Homo sapiens: one gene and its partner. The protein of the gene in region 1 purifies or fractionates together with the protein of each later gene. This does not show direct contact. Each region holds a gene or a part of one and is shown in the gene's direction. Other genes may lie near its edges. The genes, in order: CFAP45 and GLS.

The links.
Region 2: the proteins of CFAP45 (region 1) and GLS purify together in Homo sapiens (affinity purification with mass spectrometry; 2 studies listed by BioGRID and IntAct, with this or other methods). This does not show direct contact.

What each region holds. Positions count from the first base shown.
Region 1 is NC_000001.11:159,874,148-159,885,641, reverse strand, and holds part of CFAP45 (cilia- and flagella-associated protein 45), read left to right. Parts: intron 1-1,076; coding exon 1,077-1,206; intron 1,207-4,941; coding exon 4,942-5,088; intron 5,089-8,179; coding exon 8,180-8,293; intron 8,294-8,892; coding exon 8,893-9,086; intron 9,087-11,494. UniProt on the Homo sapiens protein: Microtubule inner protein (MIP) part of the dynein-decorated doublet microtubules (DMTs) in cilia axoneme, which is required for motile cilia beating.
Region 2 is NC_000002.12:190,881,631-190,893,124, forward strand, and holds part of GLS (glutaminase kidney isoform, mitochondrial isoform 1 precursor), read left to right. Parts: intron 1-282; exon of another isoform or gene 283-358; intron 359-11,494. UniProt on the Homo sapiens protein: Catalyzes the first reaction in the primary pathway for the renal catabolism of glutamine. Plays a role in maintaining acid-base homeostasis. Regulates the levels of the neurotransmitter glutamate, the main excitatory neurotransmitter in the brain.

The sequences.
Region 1 (11,494 bases):
GCCTGTAATAGGTGCTTAATTCATGTTGGGATGAATAAATTCAGTCTCCCCTTCATTTTGTGCAGAAAAGGACAAGTCCCAGAGCAAGTAAATTATAGAATAATAGTGTCCTAGATTTAGAACGCCAACCATACAATACATGAATTACCTTTATAAATAATCTTTGTACCACACTGAATGGCAGTTTTATCTCCCCAACTGTATCCTGTTCTCTGGAACCATTCATCTCTGTGTCTTGTGTACTATACCTGGTACATTCACCTCTGTACTTCTGGTAGGTACCTGGTATACTATAGTAGGTTCCCAGTGAAAGGTTACTGAGTGGCTAAGTGGCTGTCCATCTTCTGCATAAACAGCTCCAGCAAAGGAAAACTCTGTCTTGTTAGGCAACTGTAATGATTTGAGCTGGTCCTTGTATTGAGCCCAAACTTGTTTTCATGTAACCCTTTTACTCTTTACTCCTGTTTACTTCATCTGGAGTCATGAAGCCATTCGAGCACTCCATCTGAATGTGGCTCTCATACTCTTTCCCCTCAATTCTGATCCTAATATGTGTCTTCTCCCGTTCTTCCAGCCTTTACTCATATGTCATGGGGTCTATGCTTCCAAGTTTATTGACATCCCACTAACACATAGGGAATCACTGACAACATTGCTTGTACACCCTGGGTTTGTTTGTTTGTTTGTTTGTTTGGCTTTTTACTATTCAGCTAGCTTCCTATGATTACTCTGGGAAGAATTGGGAGGTGGTAGGATTTCAGAAACTCTTTATATACTGGAAGGTAGAAGGTGTTTTATCAAGTGGGGTACCCCTCTTGGACAAACAAATAAAGAAGGAGAATCTCAGGAAGAGTGAGCCCTGGAACCAGGAGCTCAGGAGAAAGGAGGCCAACCCTTGAGGTCCTTCCTGGGGGAGGGACTTTGGTCTGGGCTCATGAAGCATATTCATGTTTAGGGGGCACTTGTCAAATTGTTTCGGTGACACCACCCATCTTGGGGGTTGTTTAGGTGGAGGTTGGACTCTGGGAGATGTGGACCCGGGGTTTCTAAGACACTGTGGCACTGTTCTCTCCAAGAGGAAGGCGGCAAATTGTGGAACAGATGGAAAAGAACCAGGAGGAGCGATCGCTGCTTGCTGAGCAGCGGGAGCAGGAGAAGGAGCAGATGCTGGAATATATGGAACAGCTCCAAGAGGAAGATCTAAAGGTAACAGGCCAGACAGACAATGCCACGTTTCACCAGCTGCAGCATCAAAACCCTTCAAGACTCTGGGGTTTCAGGGTGTTGACTGATTTTCTGCCAGGCACATGCTCATTTCACAACATCATCACCGTCAACTTTTTATTGCCATGTTAAATATTTATTTCACCATGGTGTCACGCTGCGGGATGAGCAGTGATTTGGATAGATATTGTCCCTTCCTTCCAAGGACTTGAGGTCCAAGACTGACATATCACTGTGAATAGACACATAAAGGAAATATATGGCTGCATGCTTTGCACAAGTAAACATAGGGATGTTTTATAGTCTTCCTTCAATCACCTAGGGATATTATATACTTTGTAGATGAACAGTAGCAATATCTTAGTTCCAGACTCCCTGCTGTTACTTCACTCAAAGTACATAGCATCCCATTGCCATTAACTGTGTTGTGAAGCCAAACCTTTTCTTCCTGTTAGTCCAAATAAAATTAGTAAGCATATTTATTGCAAAAGAAATGACAACATACCTGCCCAAACTAAGAAGACTTAAAAAGTCATCTTCTGTATGCCTTCTCTGGGCTGTAACAATGTATAAAACCCTTTAGCACAGTGAGGGACATGGCAGGCACTTGGATAATTTATTTTTTTCCTCAATTTTTTATTTTGAAAAATTTTGCACACACAGAAAAGTTGAAAAAATTGTATCACACCCATCAACTCTTCACCTAGATTTAATGATTGTTAATCATTTACCTTAGTTGCTTGTTTCTTTCTAGGTGTGTGTGTATATATATATATATATATATATATATATATTTTATTGTTAAACTATTTGAAAGTAAGTTGCAGATATCTTGACACTCTGCCACTAAATGCTTCAGCCTGCAGCTCTGAAGAACATGGACACTCTCTTACATGTCAACAATACCATTATCACCTCCTCCATCAAAAACTTGAATTCAGTGATTCCATAATATCATCTAATAGTTAATCCACATTCACATTCCCCAATTGTTCCAAATATGTATTTCTGGCTCTCTTGTTTCCAAACTAGACGTTAATCAAGGTTTGCACATTGCATTCCGTTGAGTCTCTTTAGTTTGTTTTGATCTAGAAGAGTTCCCCCATTCATTCATTCATTCATTCATTCAGTTCTTCATTCATTTTTATAACACTGATATTTTGAAGCATCTAGGCCAGTTGCCTTTAAGAATATCTCACATTCTGAATTTGTATGATTGCCTCCTCATGGTGCCATTTAACTTGTGGAACACGTATTCTTTTACGATTCTCTCCCTCCCCTGTGTTTATGAATTGTCAAGTTGTCATCAGCTAGTGCATTTGATGGTGGTGAGTGACAGGGGGACGTGAAGAGTGCTGCAGGTGGGCAGACTTGTAATTATGAAGCCTTCTCATCACATCTGCAGTGTGAGGAGCTGCTAGAGAAGTGCAATGAAGATCACCTGGGTAGTTGGGAAACTGAAGGGGCACACAGCTCTGTGAACTGCATGAGAAGGAGAATAGCAGGGTGAAGGCAATGAGAGACCTGGCCAAGTTACTCCATTTCCTGGCTCAGGGGAGAGAGAGTGGGAAAGGGCCAAGAAGGAAAGTTATGGGGCAAATATGCAAGGTAGTGGGTGAGAAGTGAGGGCAGGAAAATCCAACTAGATGTGGGGAGTGGGAATTAGTGGGCTCACTGAGGAAGTTCTAGGAGTCCATGAGTCAGCACCATTATGTTGATGTTGTGTCATTATCCTTTTAATGTCCTTCTAACAGGCACTCCCTGAGTCTCCAGGAAGTATTATTGGGCAACTTTAGCAAGGAAACCTGTGCCTTCCCAGCTTTAGACCTACTGTATCATCTCATGGTGGTACGAAGGGCAGCGTTTCCCACCTTGCTAACAAAGGGGGAAAGAGTGAAGGGAATTTATCTGGGGTTGCTTTGGAAGGGCTTCAAAAGAAACAGGGAAAGTCCTTTGGTGTCTTGGAATTGAAATGAGCCAACAAAAACAACAATCCAAAAAGTAAATAAATAGGGAAAGAAGTAAATAAATACATGATTGTATGTATGTCATACATCAGAAATCAACAGCATCTTTAGCTTTGAGGGCCAGTGAGATTAAATGATGTCTGGGATACAAATAGCAGGCCTAAAATCAGTGAGAAGCAGTTAGGAAGGAAAGGAAGAAAGGGAGAAGGGGGAAAAGGAGCGAGAGAGTTGGAGGGGCAGAAAGGGAAAAGTGGAGTGAGCAAAGAAATGAGTATGGTGAGAGAGAGAGGGAATGTCTGTGACTCACGCACCACATGGACCTCAGAGGCAGAGAGTTGCCATACCGCTCTGGTTCAGAAGCCTTCCTGAAGGAAGAAGCCTTGAACTGGGCAGTGAGCCAAGCTGGCAGAGAGCCAGCACTACAGGAAGACACACAGGGAGAGTTACCTTGGTTAGATGAATCAGGGCAGCAGCTGGGCTGAGGAAGACCTGGAAGGCCAGGGAGGGATTTAGTCTTTGGAGAAATGGAGGGAGCTGGAAACAGTGTGGGAGGTGGGGTGAGTTAATCAATAGAAGAACTTAAGGAGTCTGAGATTGATTGGAGGTGATTGGGGGGCCAGCTGTTCCCCTAATTCCGATGCCCCTCTGCACCTGAGAATGTGCTTGGCTCAGAAGTGGTCTGATCATTGAGAGCTGTTGAAGGCTCAGGTCTGGGAAAGGCAGGGGGATCCTTCCTTAAAAACGACCTTGTTCACATTGGTACTCTGATCTCCGTCAAATGTTTCCCTGTGTCTAAGAACTTTTTTTCTTTCCTTTCTCACATGCCTCTCACTTTGGTCCTACCTTTCCTGCCTCATTTATCAATGGTTTATCGAATATTTGCTATTTTCCTTGCATTGGGCTACATGTTGTTGGGGAAGAGAGGATGTGTGACACAAGGTCCCTTGTCCTGTAACTGGGGCAGAGCGAACACATATGAAATGAGTGGGGACCTGCAAGGCAGTGTATGATCACCTTGCAAGAGGTGTGTCGCCACCTTAAGTGCAGAGAGAATTTAGAAATGGAGAGAGAATTGAAAGTTGAGGCAATCAAGCAAGATTTCCAGAGAAGGTTGATACTTTAATTTAGACAGAACAGGTTTCAAAATTTTAGCTCTGGAGATTATAAGCTGTGTGGCCGGTGGGGAAGTCACTTCAATGCTGGGCCTCAGTTTCTTTATTGGAGCAAGAGAGATAACAAGGCCTACCTACCTTTTAGGATTTTTGGACATATTTAGGTATTAGAGATAGTCTGTGTACAGTGCTCAAGAAATAGAAAGCACTCAATTAAGGCAATATGTATTATTTCAGTCGTCACTATTGACTGGAGAGTGAAAGTTAGGTTTAAATGGGAGAGGAACATTGAAGGCAGGAGAAGCACCATGAGCAAAGCCACAGGGGTAGGATTTAGCAAAACATGTGAGAGGCAATTGTATGGAACTTTAAGAGCTTCTGCTTCCTGAAAATATAGAGATCAATAGCATCAGGGGCTGCCACAAAGTCAAGTTGGATGAAGACTGTAAATAGGCCATTTGGTTGAAGAGGGTATTTATGACCCTTGAAAAAACAGCTTTAACAAAGGATAGTTGTGGACACTAGACTGCAGGCAATGCATTTGCCCCCTCCTCTGTCTGCATCTCTCTATCCCTGGATGCCAGTGGCTTCTTGTCTTACCTCTTTGTACTCTGAGGCTCTCTTTCTTTTGCTGGCAGGACATGGAACGAAGGCAGCAACAAAAACTGAAGATGCAAGCTGAGATTAAGCGCATCAATGATGAAAACCAGAAACAGAAAGCAGAACTGCTGGCTCAGGAGAAGCTGGCAGACCAGATGGTGATGGAGTTTACCAAGAAGAAGATGGTAGGGACTTGGTTTCTGGGACCTTTGGTTAGGAATGGAATGTCTGTCACAGGGAGAGGAGGGCCTGAGAACTAAGGGAACTCCAGTGGAAGGCAGCCGCACCTTCATTCTAAGATGCACATCCTTAGTTCAAGGGCCTGGCTTCTTTGTCTCTTCATCTTAGCCAGTCCACTTGTTCGTTAACAGAGACAGCCTAGAAAGGACAACCAAATTAGCTTTAACCTCATTAACACCTTTGATTAGAAGTTGGGATGAGGGCCATATGCAGGCAGAAAAGAAAACTGAAACTATTGGTGAAAGTGAGTTTTTTTGTGGATTTGTCATGACTTGCGTAATTATACCCCCGGTAATCATGAGTCAGCGGTTACATAAATTTCTTGTGCAAATGCCTATATTGGACATCCTGTATTGGGTGCTAGACTCAGAAAATAGTCTTCCCCCATCTCCCACCAAAGAACCTATATGACAGAGCAAATGCACAGTGGAGGAGAGAGCCATACCTGCAGACAGTTGCAGATGGATGTAGCTCATGAATGTGTCAGCTCATTCTGGGGCAAAATTGAGTAATAAAATGATTGGGATCTACGGGGATTGGAGAGTAGAAGAAGGCTTTTAAGAGTGGTATAGATAAAGTGAACATGGATTTATGTAAAAAGAGGAGGAAGTACTCAAGGTGGCAGGAAAGTTATTAAATTCTTCATGTGTTGATCTTGTCTGCCCTGCTAGTTTTGAAATTCCATGATGACAGAAACACATTGTACTTCTCTATGCTCCTCTATAGTAGTGATTTTTAAAGAAGGCCAGGGGGAGGGTGTGAGTATAATTTGAATGGCATATTTGGTACACCTATATGTTCTGAATACAAACCACAGAAAATGAAGCTCAGCGAAGCTCACTTATTGGCTTTAGTATTCTTATTGGATGCTGGGGACACTCTATGCAAGCAATAGAGTGAGAATGCAGGTTTGGGGACATAGATGATTCCTACATAATAACAATCACATAACTATCATTTAGTGAGCACCTAGTCTGTGCATAGGCTCCGTGCTAAGTGTTTTACACGTGTTATCTCTTTTAATCTTTACAATAATCCTGTGAAATGGTCACTGATGATTCAAAATATACTGGATGCTTCAATATGTGTCCAGTCAGACTAGGCTGAAAATACCTAGGATAATGCTGTACCATTGGAACTCAACCACTATTTTCCCAAGTGAATGAAGGTGGGGATGATGAGCTAATTCTGTGTAGGAGTTAGTGCACATATTTTCTGGCTGCAGCAGAGGGTTGGTAGTGGATATAATAAGAAATGAGGGTGGTGAGATGACAGAGAGCTAAGAGCAGTTGTTGGGGTGTCTTGGACATTGAGTGGAGCTGGAAGAGTGGAATGATAAGGAGTCGCCATGAATTTCTAAGCAAGAGAGGAGTATATCTTGTCTTTATCATGGAAAGGACATTGTCAAGGTGTAGCTGGGAGAGGCTGGAGACTGGCCACGGAATCAGGCACTTGGGCATGTCCACAGTCCACCGTAAGTATCTACGTATATCACAAGCCCTTACCGACCTCACGGTGGTATCTATTCTTGCAGCCAGGGCTGCCCCTGCAGAGCTAAAAGCAGAAATTGGTTGTAGAAACACCCAGAGTTCCCTGTCCTGTTATCTAGGGCAGGGTGGACAAAGGAAGCAGCTTGACAACAGCCCCGTACAACTTACAGGGACAACTCACTGGGCTTCACAGAAGTCTGGGCAGGTAGAATGAGGGCAAGGAAGGTTTTTTTTTTTTTTTTTTTTTTTTTTTTTAGATGTAGTCTTGCTCTGTCACTAGGCTGGAGTGCAGTGGTGCGATCTCAGCTCACTGCAGCAACCTCTGCCTTCCGGGTTCAAGAGATTCTCCTGCCTCAGCCTCCCGAGTAGCTGGGACTACAGGCATGCGCCACCATGCTCAGCTAATTTTTGTATTTTTAGTATAGACACTGTTTCACCATGTTGGCCTGGATTGGTTTGATCTCTTTACGTCATGATCTGCCTGCCTCAGCCTCCCAAAGTGCTGGGATTACAGGCATGAGCCACCATGCCTGGCCGGGAAGATTCTTTATAAATGTCACATTTGCCTCCAACCTGCACCATTCATCTTACGATTGCTCAAGAATGGCGTTGGGAAGCGGGCTTGGGAAGCTTTTAAGGATATACCTGTTTTTTCAGAGAGGTGGAAAGGGAGCTAATTTTGGTGGTTCATTCTTTAAGTATCTGGTAACCACTGTGGGACTGCCCAAAGCATGGTTGGCTCTTTGCCCAGGGACTAATGAGATAACCTCCACCTGCTGTACTTTACAAGACAGGCACAGGACCAGTTGTTTCTTGGCCCAGTAGCCTTGCAACTTGAAAATTGTCTATGACATAGTGGAAGGAGTGTGAAAGCCAGGGTCAGGGTACCTGTGTTCAAATCCTGTTAGGTAGTTTACTTCCTGTGCAATCTTGGGCAAGACCCTTGATCTTTCTGACCATCCGTTTCCTCATCTATAATATCTGTCTCAGGAAATGTTGTGAGGGCTCTCCAGGATAACACATAGGAAAGTGTTTTGTAAACAATAAAGCATTTTATAAATGCTAATTGTTTTATATTCATGCATTGCTAAATTCATTTTACCTTATTTATTTATTTATTTATTTATTTATTTTGAGACAAGGTCTTACTCTGTTGCCCAGGGGAATGCAGTAATGCAATCATGATTCACTGCATCCTCGACTTCCCAGGTTCAAGCAGTCCTCCTATCTCAGCTTCCCGAGTAGCTGGGACTATAGGCACATGCCACCATGCCTGGCTAATTTTTAGATTTCTAGTAGAGACAGAGTCTTTCTCTGTGGCCTAGGCTGGTCATGAACTCCTGGGCTCAAGTGGTCCTCCTGCCTCAACCTCCCAAAGTGCTAGGATTATAGGCATGAGCCACGGCACCTGGCCTTATTTTGTCCTATTTTAAAAGGAGTCAGGAAGTGGTAGGGGAGATATTGGAAAGTCTGTTGTAGGGGTTTTGTTTCTCTCTGCAAGGCTGGGGCAATGGCAACTATTCTACAAGGCCTTTCCTTCCGGCAGGCTCGAGAAGCAGAGTTTGAGGCTGAGCAGGAGAGAATCCGGAGGGAGAAAGAGAAGGAGATCGCACGCTTGAGGGCCATGCAGGAGAAGGCCCAGGATTACCAGGCAGAACAGGTACCTGCTTAGTCTCGACTTCCCTCTACTTTTCCCACTCCCTTGCCTATCCATCCCTTTGACAGCCTGTAGAATGGCCTTGAGGGTGGAGATGCGGAGGAAAGGATGCAAGTTACCTAGACTTCAGTAGTCTGAGAAGGAAGGGGTGGCCTGCTCCCAGGGCCTGTGTCAGCAGGGATTGGGCAGTGCAGCCTGTGCTTAAGGTTCAAGAGAAAGTTTTTCGCTGCTCCATAAAGAAGAACTTTCAACCTTAACCAACCAATGAAATGTGTCACCAGGGGAACCTGTGGTATCTCCATCATTAGCAGTTTTTAAAATTAGAAGCAATTTCAAGACTGCCTGGAGATGTCTGAGGTACAGGGAAAGAACTGGGATGAGTGGGTTGGAAGGACAAGATGACCCCTCAGGTTATCTTCTAACCCAAAGGTTTGATGACAGGATTCCATTTATCTTTTCCTAGAATAACTAGCTGCCAGAGAAATTCATGATGCTTTTCAAAGCAGACTGTCAGAGTCTGTAAGTAGGTATCTTCTTAAAGCCACTTGGTCTGTACTTCCAGCTATTTTGTGCCCTCACTGGTCCCCTGCCAACATTCCCAGGATGCCTTGCGGGCCAAGCGCAACCAGGAGGTTGCAGACAGAGAGTGGCGCAGAAAGGAAAAGGAAAATGCGCGGAAGAAGATGGAAACAGAGGCTGAGCTGCGAAAAAGTCGGCTCGAACAGGTGGCTTTCAAGGAGCACGCTCTGGCTGTTCAGGTGCAACGGGACCGGGATGAGTTCGAGAGGATTCTTCGGTAGGAGGGGCCTGGGAACCTTGGATTCCTTTCCTTGTACTGTAGCAGGGATGGTCCATATTGGATAGAGAGAAGCTTTCTGGCATGTTAACAGATGCTCGTCGATCTTGTCTGGGTTGGTGGGATCATTATAACTAGATGGATGATTGAAACTTTTAAAAATCACTTGAGCCAAGAATTATGTGATTAGAGAATTGGGAGATAGCACCTGGAATTGCTTAAGGAATTGGTGATGACTGGGATTATTTACCCTGGAACAGTAAAAGTATAAATAAAGGTAAAATTCTGGTCCATTCTGCTGCCCTCTGACCCATGTGCCCCTGCAAATTGGGGATGAAACTGCAAGAGGAGTGGTTTAGGAAAGATAGAGAAAAGAACTTCAGACACTAAGGGTTGTGAGTCACTGGAGCAGGACTTTAAGGGAGCTGTTTGCCGTTCATTTGACAAATATATATTAAGCACAGAAATGCAGGGCTCTGTGCTGGATGCCATGGAGGACATTAGCAATTAACAAAACACTGCTCTTGCCCATTCCACAGGAAAGGTATTAGAGATTTGTGTTTGGATGGACTGCACCTACATCAATCCATCTTTCTTCCTTGGTAGCTATTTATCCTTTTACTTTTGTTTTCCCTTTTGGCTCAATGATAATTTCAACACATAAGTGGAAGCTAAATGTTCACATCTCTCACTGTTCTGCTCCCTCCCCAAAAGCAGTCAACAGTCACAGCTCCCATTGGTTTCCCTCTCTGCTCTGTTTTCCACCAGTCAGACCTGGTCCCTGGGGCTGTTCTCCTGGTCTAACTGGGAATGACTCTCTTTTTGCTCTGGTTCAGACTCTACAACATTAGAATTTTTCAAAAGGAAACAAGCCAAGCAAAATTCGAATTGAAGGGATACAAAATTATAGACATTATGCTCAGATAAGTAGAGATTAAACAGTATAGCATCACTTTCTTGGTTCATATGCTCTAAGTCCTTCCTCTTGGCAATGGGTAGTTAGTGGCATGCCAGACCAGGCTACCCAGACCCCTAGTTAGAGGCAGAGCAGGTCTTCGGGAGCCTCTATCCTTACGAGAGCCAGATTTTTGGCCTTTTATTGGACTGCAGGCCCCAGCATGTCCCCCCTGCCATGATACCCTTTGGCTCTGTAATTTTCTCTGCCCCCAGGGTTGTGCCATGGTCACTGGACACCTAGTGAAGAAAGTAGCTTCCTAAATGCCCCCCAAGATTCTGCCCTTGGGCTACAGACTGCCTTCCAGATGTCTCCTCTCTCCTCCCTGGCCTCTATGCCCTTGGACATCTGTGTTGCTGTTAACAGGCACTAATAAATATTAATGAAATGAAATTTAAGTCCTACTTTTGCTGCCGACCCATTTATCTTTCCTTTGCATCATTTGCCTGAAGCATATGCACTAGCCAGTTATTAAAGCTAGACCAGCCTTTTTGGAGAAGTTCAACTTCACCTATTGTTGTAGGTTAGTATCTAGGCCTAGTGTCTCCAGGGCCATGTGACCACCATGTTTGGTGTCTTTACTCAGAAGCATCTCTGCCACAGCCCAAATCCAACTTTCTCTGCCTCAAAAGCACAGCCTCCTCTATGGCCTATATGTGGACTTTTGTTTCTGGACAGAGGGATGTCCATACTTCTCAGCCTGTTGACTAAGCAGAGATAGCTGTCTTCCTCTACCAAGTGGTTTTTAGAAATGTCTTGGAGCTTTTGAAAAATACGATGACCAGGCTTCACTTCCTAGATTGTGATTTAAATGGTCTGGGATTAGGCCCATGCATGAGTCTGTTTCAAAAGCTCCCAGGTGATTCTAAAATGTAGCTAGGCTCTGTGATCACTGCCCTAACCCGATGGAACGACCAGGTTCATCCTCATTTGGATTTTCAACTGCCTGGCACCACCGGGGCTCTCTAGTGACACATACAAGTCCCCCTTTTCCACACTTACCCCTTCACTCAGAAGAGGGTGAAACAATAGAAAACTGTTCTAAATATAGGAAAACAATGGCAAGGCAAAGAGGAGAGTCCCCCTGCTATCAGAGATGTGTCTGGGAAGTCAGGATTTGGTGTCTAAATACAGAGGGCTGAGGAAGCCAACAGTATTCTTCGGGTAAACTGGGAAGTCTCTGTAGAAGGCACAGAATTTTAGGAGATGTTTGCATGATGGAAAGAGTTTCTGGGAGTGGGGAGGATGCCGCATGTATGGTGGATCTTGGAAGAAAGCTAGAGGGAAATGAGGAAATGAAGCAGTGTTGTAGGTACCTTTTGTTGGGGTATCGGTGACTCTAGGGGAGGAGAGCAGGTGAGAAATTCCTGCCTAAGATGATTTTACATTTCATTTTTTAAATTATGTTGAGAACAAAATTAGATGTTAGCTTAAGAAGGCCTATAAATGCATT
Region 2 (11,494 bases), on another chromosome or scaffold:
CGGCCCCGCCCGCGCCTTCCCCGCCCGCAACCCTCCGCCAGGCACCCACTTCCCTTCTCCGCCCCCGGCGGGGGTCGCCCTGGTGGGGCCGCGGTGGGGCCTGATGGGCTCGCCTGGCGTCCCCAGCGCCAGAGAGGCCGCTCCCCTGCCCGCGCTGCGTGCTCAGCTCCCTGGCTTGCGGCTGCAGCGCCTGGCCGCCCGCCCCAGCCATTCGTGGGCGATGCTGCACGAACATCTCCACCGAGTGACATTTAGGAGTTGGGCGTTCAGCAGAGCCTTTACCTTCCTGACTTGTCGCTTTTCCTGGCTCGTTTCCGCTCTGCCTGCCCTCCCTTGGTTTCTGCCATCATCCGGTTGGAAGCCAGATGTGACAGAGAGCTCTTTATATTTCGGGAGTGGCTACCTCAGGCACGTGTAGAGCCATCTGGGGCACCGGAAACAATGTTTCAGAAGTGAGATTAGGAGGAATCCGGTCATGTGGCCGAGAAGATGGGGCACGCAGTATAGACCACCTGTTTGCATAAGGGACCAGCTTTGGCTTGTCAGGTCTTCCGTGAGATGGGGAGATTTTTAGAAATAAAAGTTAAATAGCCAAGATGAAATGTGACGTAATACACTAACTCAGTGAAAAATCTGAGTTGAGTAGGTTTTGTGACTTCATTGTGATAGGATGTTGACTCATCCTGTATGTGTACGGCACAGTAGTTTAGTCTTAAAGCAAAACTGGTTTTTCTTAAACAATATGCAAAGCAGTCTCCTATATATTTTTGTCTTGTGTAATACAAATGGACCACTTTGTTTTCCCAAAATGGGTAAAAATTTACGGATCTGCTTTCATTATACCTTACTCTTTTTCTGGCTTTGTACGCTGACACTCTAACCTGTTTTGCTTCCCTTTTATTTCTGCTGCTATTTCCAGCTCTAGAGTTCCTTAAGTCAAACTGAAAGTGAGAACATTGTTATAATTTCAATCTCACGCCTGCTTGATGTTTTCCTGTAATTGAAGTTGGGACCTTCCAGAAACTTTTCTAAAGTTCTTCTCCCAGACTGAAAAAGATTATTTGAAAAAAATCACTTGATGATGGGCGAAATTTGTGGTATTTTGTGATGTTGGTTTTGTGCCACAAAATAGCGTCCTGACCATGGACAGGTTATTTAATATCTTGGGTTAGATGACTTAAATCCTTTCAAGTTCTAAAAAGCTATACTTCTGTTAAATTTGTACTTCTCTCATGTTTTAGGGACTAGAATGATAATTTAATCTCATCTGGGACTCACTTTTACTTTAACATCATCCGGTTTACCAAGGAAGTAACGAGTTTACATGCAAGTGCCCAAGGTACAGAATTGCAAAATGCAGTCACAACCGTTTAAAAGTTCATCTTAAAGGCTACAAGATGGGAACTGCATTCTAGTAAAATTATGTCTTCAGGTCTGTGTCTCTGCAGTGGCTCTAGTGCCTCTCTTTTTTTTCCTCTTTTGTCAAACAGGAAATTGAGCTTCTTCTGTGATTCACTTGTCCAGAAGTTTCTGGTTTCATTGCCTTTTTAATAAAAAATCACCTTTTAGCAAGGGCCTCAAGGTTGTGAAGAAAGTTTTTTAATTTGGTTAAAGTTTCTATTTCCTTAATGATCTGGTTTCCAAATGTAGCTTTCCCTCTTTGGCTCCTTTCATTTTGCCTTTATGTGACAAACATTTCTCTTATCCTGGGAGGTAAGCTCCCAGTTGATCCTGTTATCCTTTCTAATGCTTAGCCTGCAAAGCATAGGTCATCCCTCAGTCAGCAGTCCACCTGGTATGCTAGCACTCACTCAGGACTGTGCCAGATTTTATGTAGTATTATTAAAAGAAATAACCATGAGAAAATTAAATTAACATTTTGTAAAAGGCTTAGAACAATATTTGGCGTGTGTTAAATGACACATAACTATTTATTAAATAAATGAGAAAACATTGCTTCTTCATTATTGTAAAGCCTGTTAAAGAGATTGGCCTTGGAATTTCAGGCTTGCACATGAAGGTTTTTAATTTTTTTAGTTTCCACAAAAATGTTTATCTTGAGAAATTGCTATACATCTGTCTTATATGAAACTATGTGAGTTGCACTGTTTACCTTTTGCTCTGCTGATAAATAAGTTCAGAGTAAATTTAATGCTTAACCACACCAATTTCATCAGTTCACATGGCTGGGATATCTGCGTTTCCTCCTTTCCTTGGTCCTGAGTTTATATTTTATTTACTTTATATTCTGGAAGGAGGCGTGATATAAGCAAGTTACTTTACCTTTTTTTCACAAACTCTTTGAACTAATGTCACTTTAGACTATGCTGTTTCCATCACGCAACTTTAGTGTGGTTTAGGATACGAACGTCTTAATATCACATAGAAAAATTTAATGATCTTTGCTCAGTTTTGTCTTTAGTGATCTTATTTAATTTTGTTATGGTTCATTCTGTTATCTTGAAAACCAACTTTGCTTGCCTCTCTTCGTTTTCAAAATTGTTCTCTCTTCTTTCCTAGTTCTTTTTGAATTTCCTCACTGGGTAAAAACCCTGAGGCTGAGGCCTTTGTCCCTTTCCCACTTGTCTGCCTTCTCAACAGCGTATCCCTTCTTTCAGCTTTGACTCTCATCTTTGTGTAGGTAATACTTCACCTCTTAATCCAAAGCTCTGTTCTTAAATTTGTCGCCACATATTCAATGACTTCAAATTTTAAGTCTGTACCCTGATATTCATTCTTTTCTCCAATTCAACCTATTTTGCGTACTGTTATGAGAGTAATTTTAGAGTTTTAATTTGAAAATAGCACTCTCTTCCAGAAAACCAGCAGGATCTGGAATGAGCATTATATTAAAGTCACAAACTATGTTATGGTTTATGCCAGCACTTGCCCATATGGACATTTTTATCATACTTTTCTCTGTTAAGCTGGTTATACTTATTTCCATAAAGTCCAGAAGTATGTATCCTATCTTAGTGAATGGTCCCTAGGAAGAGTCAGAGGGATAGAGGTAAGGGGCATTATTAAGTTTTTTTATTTGGACATTTATTTTTTAATGAGAAAGGAAAAGAGATACATAACAGAAATTGGGCTGGAAAAATACCAGCATATGTATGTTGTTAGAAAATAGATAATTCATACAGGATGCAATATTGAAAGTATTCTGTTAAAACAACAATGAGGTCACTTTCCCCTTCTCAGATTGGCAGATGTTAAATCAAGTAATTGGGAAAATAGGAACTCTAGCATTGCTAGTAGAAGTATAAATTATTAGTTCAGTTACTTTAGGCAGTTTGGTAGTTTCTGTTAAAAACTGCATAGCTGTGATGTGGTAGTTGGATGTTTGCATATCTACATGAAGTCGTGGCATTCAGAAATATTTGTAATTACACAAATAAGCATGCTTTAAAATATATTTATATTTAAAAGTAAAAATGCAAGCAAAAATGATTTCAGCTAGCTTTAGTTAGTATGGATTTATGTTTTGATAGTTCAGCTTTATGTTTTGATAGTTATGGACAATGAAGGGCAAAGAAAATCATCGAGGTGTATACTCTGAAAATTGAATTTTTTTTTTTTGAGATGGAGTCTCGCTCTGTCACACAGGCTGGAGTGCAGTGGTGTGATCTCGGTTCACTGCAACCTCTGCCTCCCGGGTTCAAGCCATTCTCCTGCCTCAGCCTCCCGAGTAGCTGGGATTACAGGCACCCGCCACCATGCGTGGCTAATTTTTGTTTTTAGTAGAGATGGGGTTTCACCATGTTGGCTGGGCTGGTCTTGAACTCCTGACCTCAGATGATCTGCCCGCTGTGGCCACCCAAAGTGCTGGGATTACAGGCGTGAGCCACCGCACCTGGTCTGAACATTGAATTTCAAAGTAAGATGAAATGCTTATGAATTTCAGCGAACATTGAATTGGGTAGATTGAACAATACTAGTAAGGAAGTTGAGTTAGTATTTGGCAGATATAAATATTAAGTTTTAGAACTGAATGACAAAACCTCTGTTAAAATGGGGGCACATGTTTTTATGATCCTTCAGTATTGCATTTGGTTTTAATTTTAAAAGCTAACATATTTACAATTCACTTAAGCTAAAATCAAGGTGGAAAGTATGTTTAATTTTTTCCTTTGGGCTTCTCAGGCAGCCCCTTAGTTATTTTTGATTTCTTCATTATTAAAAATTTTTTTCTAGGTGATGATTATCAGTGAGTTTTAGTTTTTTTTTTTAAATTTTATTTTTATTTATTTATTTATTTTTGAGGTGGAGTCTCACTCTGTCACCCAGGTTGGAGTGCAGTGGTGTGATCTCAGCTCAATGCAACCTCTGCCTCCTGGGTTCAAGTCGTTCTCCTGCCTCAGCCCCCCATGTAGCTGGGACTTACAGGCACGTGCCACCACACCTGGCTAATTTTTGTATTTTTAGTAAGATGGGAATTTACCATGTCAGCCAGGATGGTCTCGACCTCCTGACCTTGTGATACGCCTGCTTCGGCCTCCCAAATTGCTGGGATTACAGGCGTGAGCCACTGCACCCAGCCCAGTTTTGTTTTTTTAAAAGCAAGTGAAAAAGGTACCAATAACTATATGTCATAACATTTTTGTGACCTAATATTTATATTGAAATGTGCATCAGTCATTGATAACTTTGTCCATGATCTGTAATTAACAAACTCATGCTGTTAATTTATAGTTTTATTAATATTTGGATGAAATTCACTGAAAGAACAAGAATTAGATTCTGAGGGGTTTAGTCTCCTGGACTTTTAGCTGCATATTTCCAGACCTTACTCTTTTATAGAGAAGTCTACCTACCTCAAAGTCAGCTAATCCATGAAATGACTACCAAATAGAATTCAGCCTTTTTTATGAGGCAATATGTAGGCCAGCTAAAAGGGAGGGGGGGCACTATTTTAGTCCAAAGATAAATGTCACTTTGAAAGAAATTTGCTGAAGATATTTGTGGGTTTCTTTGAGTTTTAAAAAGTTATTTAAAAGAAATCAGGCTGGGCGTGGTGGCTCATGCCCGTAATCCCAGCACTTTGGGAGGCCAAAGCAGGTGGATCAGTTGAGGTCAGGAGCTTGAGACCAGCCTGGCCAACATGGTGAAACACTGTCTCTACTAAAAATACAAAAATTAGCCAGGAGTGGTGGCGGGCACCTGTAATCCCAGCTACTCGGGAGGCTGAGGCAGGAGAATCGCTTGAACCCAGGAGGTGGAGGTTGCAGTGAGCCGAGATCATGCCGCTGCACTCCAGCCTGGGTGACAGAGCGAGACTCTTGTCTCAAAAAAAAAAAAAAAAAGAAAGTAATAGTAAAAGGCTGTACTACTTCCTTCTTGTGATATTTGAAATGAAGAAAAATTATGACCATATAAGCTGAAAGCCTAATTATAGAATTTGTGTGAGGGAGCTCAATCATGTTAAATCCTATATAAATTAAGGTTATATTTTATAGTTGCCTGTCTGTGCCTTTTCACCTTTAAGTCATTTGCTAGTAAGAGAAATGCTTAAGAAAGGTGAGTAAACAGATGTATTTATAAAAATAGTTATTAATTACTGATATCTCTCAGTGAGGTACATAGCTTTCACATAGAGATACTGTTAGTACAGTTTTACCCTGAAATCTACTCAGGTGCAAAATTGCTTTGGTTATGAAACACATTACTTGTGAGTCATCACTGCACTTAGTGATTTTCTGACCCCCTACAACGTAGTAGAAGCAAAATGTTAATGTACCTTGACTTCCATTTGGGAGTGTCCTCTGCTTGATATGTTAAATTCATTATAAAGAAATGTTTATAGTAAAAGCATTACTTTCGAAACATAGAACTGTAGATGTTGCATAATGAATAAAACTGATAGCTTTCAGGATTAAGAAATATATTTTTGCCTATTTATTTCTGGTACAGGCTTCTAAAAAAGATTTTTAAAATTGTCTTCTTGATGAGGATATTTTGAGTGACATAGACCCGTCCTTCAATTCTTGATGGTAAACTTTCTGAAGAGCAATTTTTAAGCTCTATGAGGAACTTACAAAGTATTCATACCTTTTTAGGAATCTAAGTTCACAAAATAAACTGAAGTGTTAGAAAGATTTATTTCCTATTATTTTTGGTACAGTGTTATGCATACTAGAGAAAAATGGAGAAAAACGCATGTTCAACATTAGTGGGATAGTTAAGTAAATTGTGGTACATTCATATGAGGGTCTCTTATTTAGTCATTTAAAATGTTTGCAGGTACTTTTTAGGATATAAGGTAATGTTATAACGGCCAAAAGTTAGAATACAGAATTTTCTATGCAGTATGATCTCAAGCTATTTAAAAAGCTCAGAAAAAGTAATAGAAGGAAATAAGCCAAAATGACATTAGCAGTTGTGGTTTATGAGAACGAGCATTGTTTTTCCTGCCTCCTTTTGTTACTTTTAAGATTTCCCCCCCATTATAAGTGGGAAACGTCTAAAACAGTAAAAAACATTCCATAGTTTTGAAAATCAAAGGAACCACATCTGTTAAGTTTTGAACTTGTAAATCTCTACTGTCTACTCTTCTAATATCCTGATTCTGGTTGTATAAGAACAGTAAGCACCATTACATTGAAAGAAAAGTATGAAAATAGGTTATGTATGAATTTGCACAGCTCCTGTTTATCAGCATTGTCTAATCATATTCACTGGTACCCTTAAACATCAAACTTTAAAAATTTAAAACTATGCTTGATATATCTCCCTAGTAAATGTTACATATTTCTCTGCCATATTAAAACATTGTAATCAATAGAGTTTAACATTTCTTGTTCAACTTATGTGTATTTTAAGGATGCATTATTATACTGCACTGTAATACAGTGATGCTGTAAGACAAGTGCTGGCACACTTTCCCTGAAAGGCCAAATAGTAAATATTTTCAGCTTTTGGGGTTCTCTAGTCACTACTACAACTTCTCAGTTCAGTGGTGGTAGCAAAATAGCTGCAAACAATAGGTAAATAGATGTGGCAGTCTTCCAATAAAACTTTATTTACAAAAAGAGGAGGTCCCTGCTGTAGTTTGCGTAGCCCTACACTAAAATATATTTATTGGTAAGTTCTCTCATGCCTTGATTGGTTCTGCTTTAACCAGTACTCTTAAGGGTGGGTTTGTTCTTTTGTGGATTTTTGTATCTTGTATCAGTTGACTGTTCTTCATGTCTCTACTTTAGCTATCCTCCTTCACTCTTACCTTCTGTATCCAGTTCTGCTTAGCTTTTTCAAAAAATTGTGGTTAAATATACATAACATAAAAATTACCACTTTAACCATTTTTAAGTTCCCTAGTTCAGTGGCATTAAATACTTCTGTTAGTTTTAGAACCCAGATGAATATGCTAATGTGTAAAATAAAAGTATGTAAGTTGTGAGTGAATAAAGTTTATGATCTCACTTTAGTGTAGTGATTTGGAGGACATCTATTTTTAGCAACTCAAAAACTGAGAATTAAGCTTGGAAGTAACTTTAAAGAACATTTAATTCCAGCTCATTTTACGTATTATATAAGCTGCCCGCAGATATTAAATGACCTAAACAAGTTCAGACAGTATTAGGACTTGTTTTGATTTTTTATTTTTCATCTATTAGCAGCAAACTAATTCAATTTATAGAGTTAATTTTTTTAGATTGAGGATTATAAGAGATCTTACAAACCCTTCTCCCCAGCTGCTGCTTTCTTCTCTTCTGTTACATACTCCCTATAGGTTGTTGTTATTCATCTCTACCTGAATACTGCCTTCACAAGGGAGTTCACTCCCTTAGAAGGCAGCCCATTCCGTTTTCATAGCTGTTTCATTTTTCCTTATGTGTGGCTGAAGTTTTTCATTAACTTCTACCTATATATGTTAGTTATTCTGAACAAGTTGTCTATAGTGGTATCAGAGTGATTGCAGTGACAGAATTCATATAGTATCTGTATTATTCCATCTAGACTGATATATTAAAGGATACTTGGCTGAAGAAATGAGTTATTGGAAAAACTAACAGAGTTGGATGTTATAGACTTGATCTCCCCAGATCCTAGTCTTCCCACCCGAGACAGCCAGACTGCCTTTTGGGTCAAACTTCTGAAGTTGTGCAAACGTATGGACAAATTACCATGAGCTGACAGGGGCAGCCTGACCATTTCCTCACATAAAGTGGCTTTTGTGCTTTTTACTTTGGTGTGCTATTAAATGAATTTGTGCTATAAAGTCCAGTCAAAACAGCAGCACTAATTGAATATAATCTCATCTTTGCTTTGACAGGATGCAGTTTTATCAAGGCAGACCAGTTTAGTTCTCTTATGTGCATTTTGGTTAGAAATTTATTATTGTTTAAGAATTACAGATATTATTCCTAAAATAGAGTGCTAACCACTGAGAGCATGAGGTGGCAGAGCAGGAAGAGTCTGGAACTGGGAACAAAGGATGAGCTTTGTAGGACTAATTCTGGTCCAGCCACTTAAGATTTATGTGACATTGGACATTCTGCTTGACTTGGATACTCTTAAAACAAAATTTTTTTTAAATTTAAAATTTAAATTAACATTTTCTTTCTTTTTTTAGAAATGGAATCTTGCTGTGTCACCCAGGCTGGAGTACATTGGTGCCATTATAGCTCACTGCAGCCTTGAACTCCTGGGCTCAAGCAGTCCTCTTGCCTCAGTCTCCCAAGTAGCTGGGACTGTAGGTGCATGCCACCACACTCTTCTAGGACTCTCTTTTATCTGTACACTGGGGACAATTAACCCACCTTAATTTACCTCATAGGGTTTTAATATGATAGAAAGTGAGAGTCCTTTTTTAGCAGTAAAGCCTTAAAAGATGTAAGTTTTTATTTTTAAATTCAACCAATGATTAGCCTTGGGGCAAAATCACTTGGATGATAACTAGAATTTGTCAATTTGTTAGACTTAACATTCATTCTCATATGCTATTTTACTATATGGTCAGCCACCATCAATTCAACTTTCTATCTAACAGGTTTATTAATCTGCCAGTTTGCTGGTGTTGATAGACGGTTGTTATCAGTCAGCTCACTATAAATTCAAAATGATACACTGATTTTAAAACAACCCTGAATTATCATCTGAAGGATCATTATTCTTAAATGAAGGCATAAAGACTAGCAAATCCTTTTGTATTGTGTTATTATTAGGCCTCATTTTTTTTAATCCCACTTGAAAAGACAGTTTTTCATTGTCTCATAGGTTTACCATACTATACTATGTGTTTTAAGAGTTATGCGAAAAAAAAAATAAGAAAGACTTGACCCCAGCCTTGAAGCTTTATAGTTTGGGGAGGTTAGGTAATATGAAATGTTATTTAACAAAATAAGACCATACAGTTGGTTTCAATTATTTTCCTCTGTTCATTTTGTAGTTCTTAGTAAGGATTTTTTTTTTATTTTCTTCCTTTCATTTGATAGTTTTTTATTTATAAGATTTTTGAACTGATGAAGATGAGTTTGCCTTGTTGCTCCTAATTACAGATTAGAAACTTTCTTGATTTCCCCTACCGATTAAGGCAAAATTAAATACTTCATCTGTACTTGCTAATAAAATACTTTTTGAAAAACACTTCTACCATAGTATTTGTCTCATGGCTTTAGTCATATTTCTCCTAGACCACAACCTTACTTTAGGGATCTTTATTGCTATTGCTTGGCATATAATAAGTGGTACAAGAAAAGGACAAAACTTAGTGATACCAGAGAATGCTAAAGAGTATAGAGAATCTGGTGGGGGCAAAGTCCTGTGAAACAATTGAAATGATCATTGATAGCTTAAGATTTAGGGAGAGGAAGGTTTTACACAGAAGGCATGATAGGTTAAAAAAAAAAAAGATGAGATAGCACTTATTTACAGGTCATTGAGTCTAGTCAATTACATTGGGGAATTATAAGGATTAAGTTAGGAATAAATAGTGTAAAACTAATTTATAGAGAACTGCATACCAGACTGAGGAGTATGAATTCCCCCTTTGGTATGGGGAAACTAATTTGGTCAGTGGGGTAAGCAAAGACAGTTCCTCTTTTCATGTTGCAGAAGTTGGCCCTGCATTTAAACTTAATGTAGATTTTGGAAGGTAGTCTCCTCATTTACCTCAGATATATATATTCAGAATATATATATTCTCAACACTAAAAAATTAAGTATTCATATAATAGCCTATAGGTAGAAACAGGCACCTTAATTCACACATTCTGTGCTCTAGCTGTTTTTTGTTCTTTATAAACACTAAGTGAATGCTTACTTTCATCCCTTTGGTCTGTTTGCCAGAAATCTTTTTCTGTTGCCATGCTTCCAGCTCTTACCCATCTTTCAGGTTTAGCTCAGATTCCACCTCATCTAAAAAAAAGCTTGACCTTATTAGACCACAGTGAAGTAGTTTTCCAAAGTCTGGATGTCATAGATCTATTCTTGTAATTCCTCATTTTATGTACATGTCTCCTACTTCTTCTAGACTGTAAATGATGTCTAACATGATGTCATACATGGCATGGGATTTTTCTTCTTTTTCATTAAGAAATTATTTTTTAAGACAGTTAAAGGCTAAAGTAGGGGAAGGAATGGGTAAAAGAAGAAACAATATGATGGTAAGATGATCTTAAAGGCAGCATTTAGAAAGGAAACGAGAGAGACAGTATAAGTTGGAGAAGAAGTAAAAAGGTGAGAAATAAGGATTTTCCTTCAGATTATCTTCTGTTATATCCTATTTGAATTGCTGAATATCATAACCATTTTATGTTTTTCTCTTCAGGGGAATCTGGAGGATTCATTTGGGTTATTAATAATTGTTGATGATAAGATTTGAAAGATTGCTATAATCCTATTTGTCATTAAAACTTAAATACTTCTCTCAAGGATTTCCTAGTTACTATATAGTTACCAAAAGCTATAGTTTTTAGCTTTTGAATTTTAATGAAAAATACATTATTGTGAAGAATTACCAGAAAGAATTAATTTAGGGAGAGAAAAGGGGGGTTAAGGCATGAATGATCTTGAGTAGTTTCTGCCTTGTGGAAAGTTTGAGGAGAATATTTGAGTATGTTTGTTCGCCAGACTGTTGAAGCGAATTCATTCTCAGATCAAAATCTGAGGTTTCAAATGCTGAAATAGGTAGTAATTTCTTTTTATCAGTTTTGACAGCTTATTTTGTGAGCTTATTTTTTAGGGCTGGCTTAAATTCTTTCCCCTATAGATAAAAATTAATTTCTTGTTTAAAAGCAAGTAAACATTTGTCTTTTTTTGCTAGCTTTGGCAATAACGTGGTCATTTTAATTTTTTTTCACTATGTGCCATAAGCTAAAAAAGTGTATATTTTACGTTATTTACATAGCTTTTAGGCAAAGCAAATACCATTTACTTGTGTGATAAATACATAGAAAGCTTATTCTGCAGTTTTTTAAAGTGACAAACTACCACTATCTGAAGTTTATTTGACCAACCATTTGCTGTAAATAATTGGTATGTTATTATCCACTGA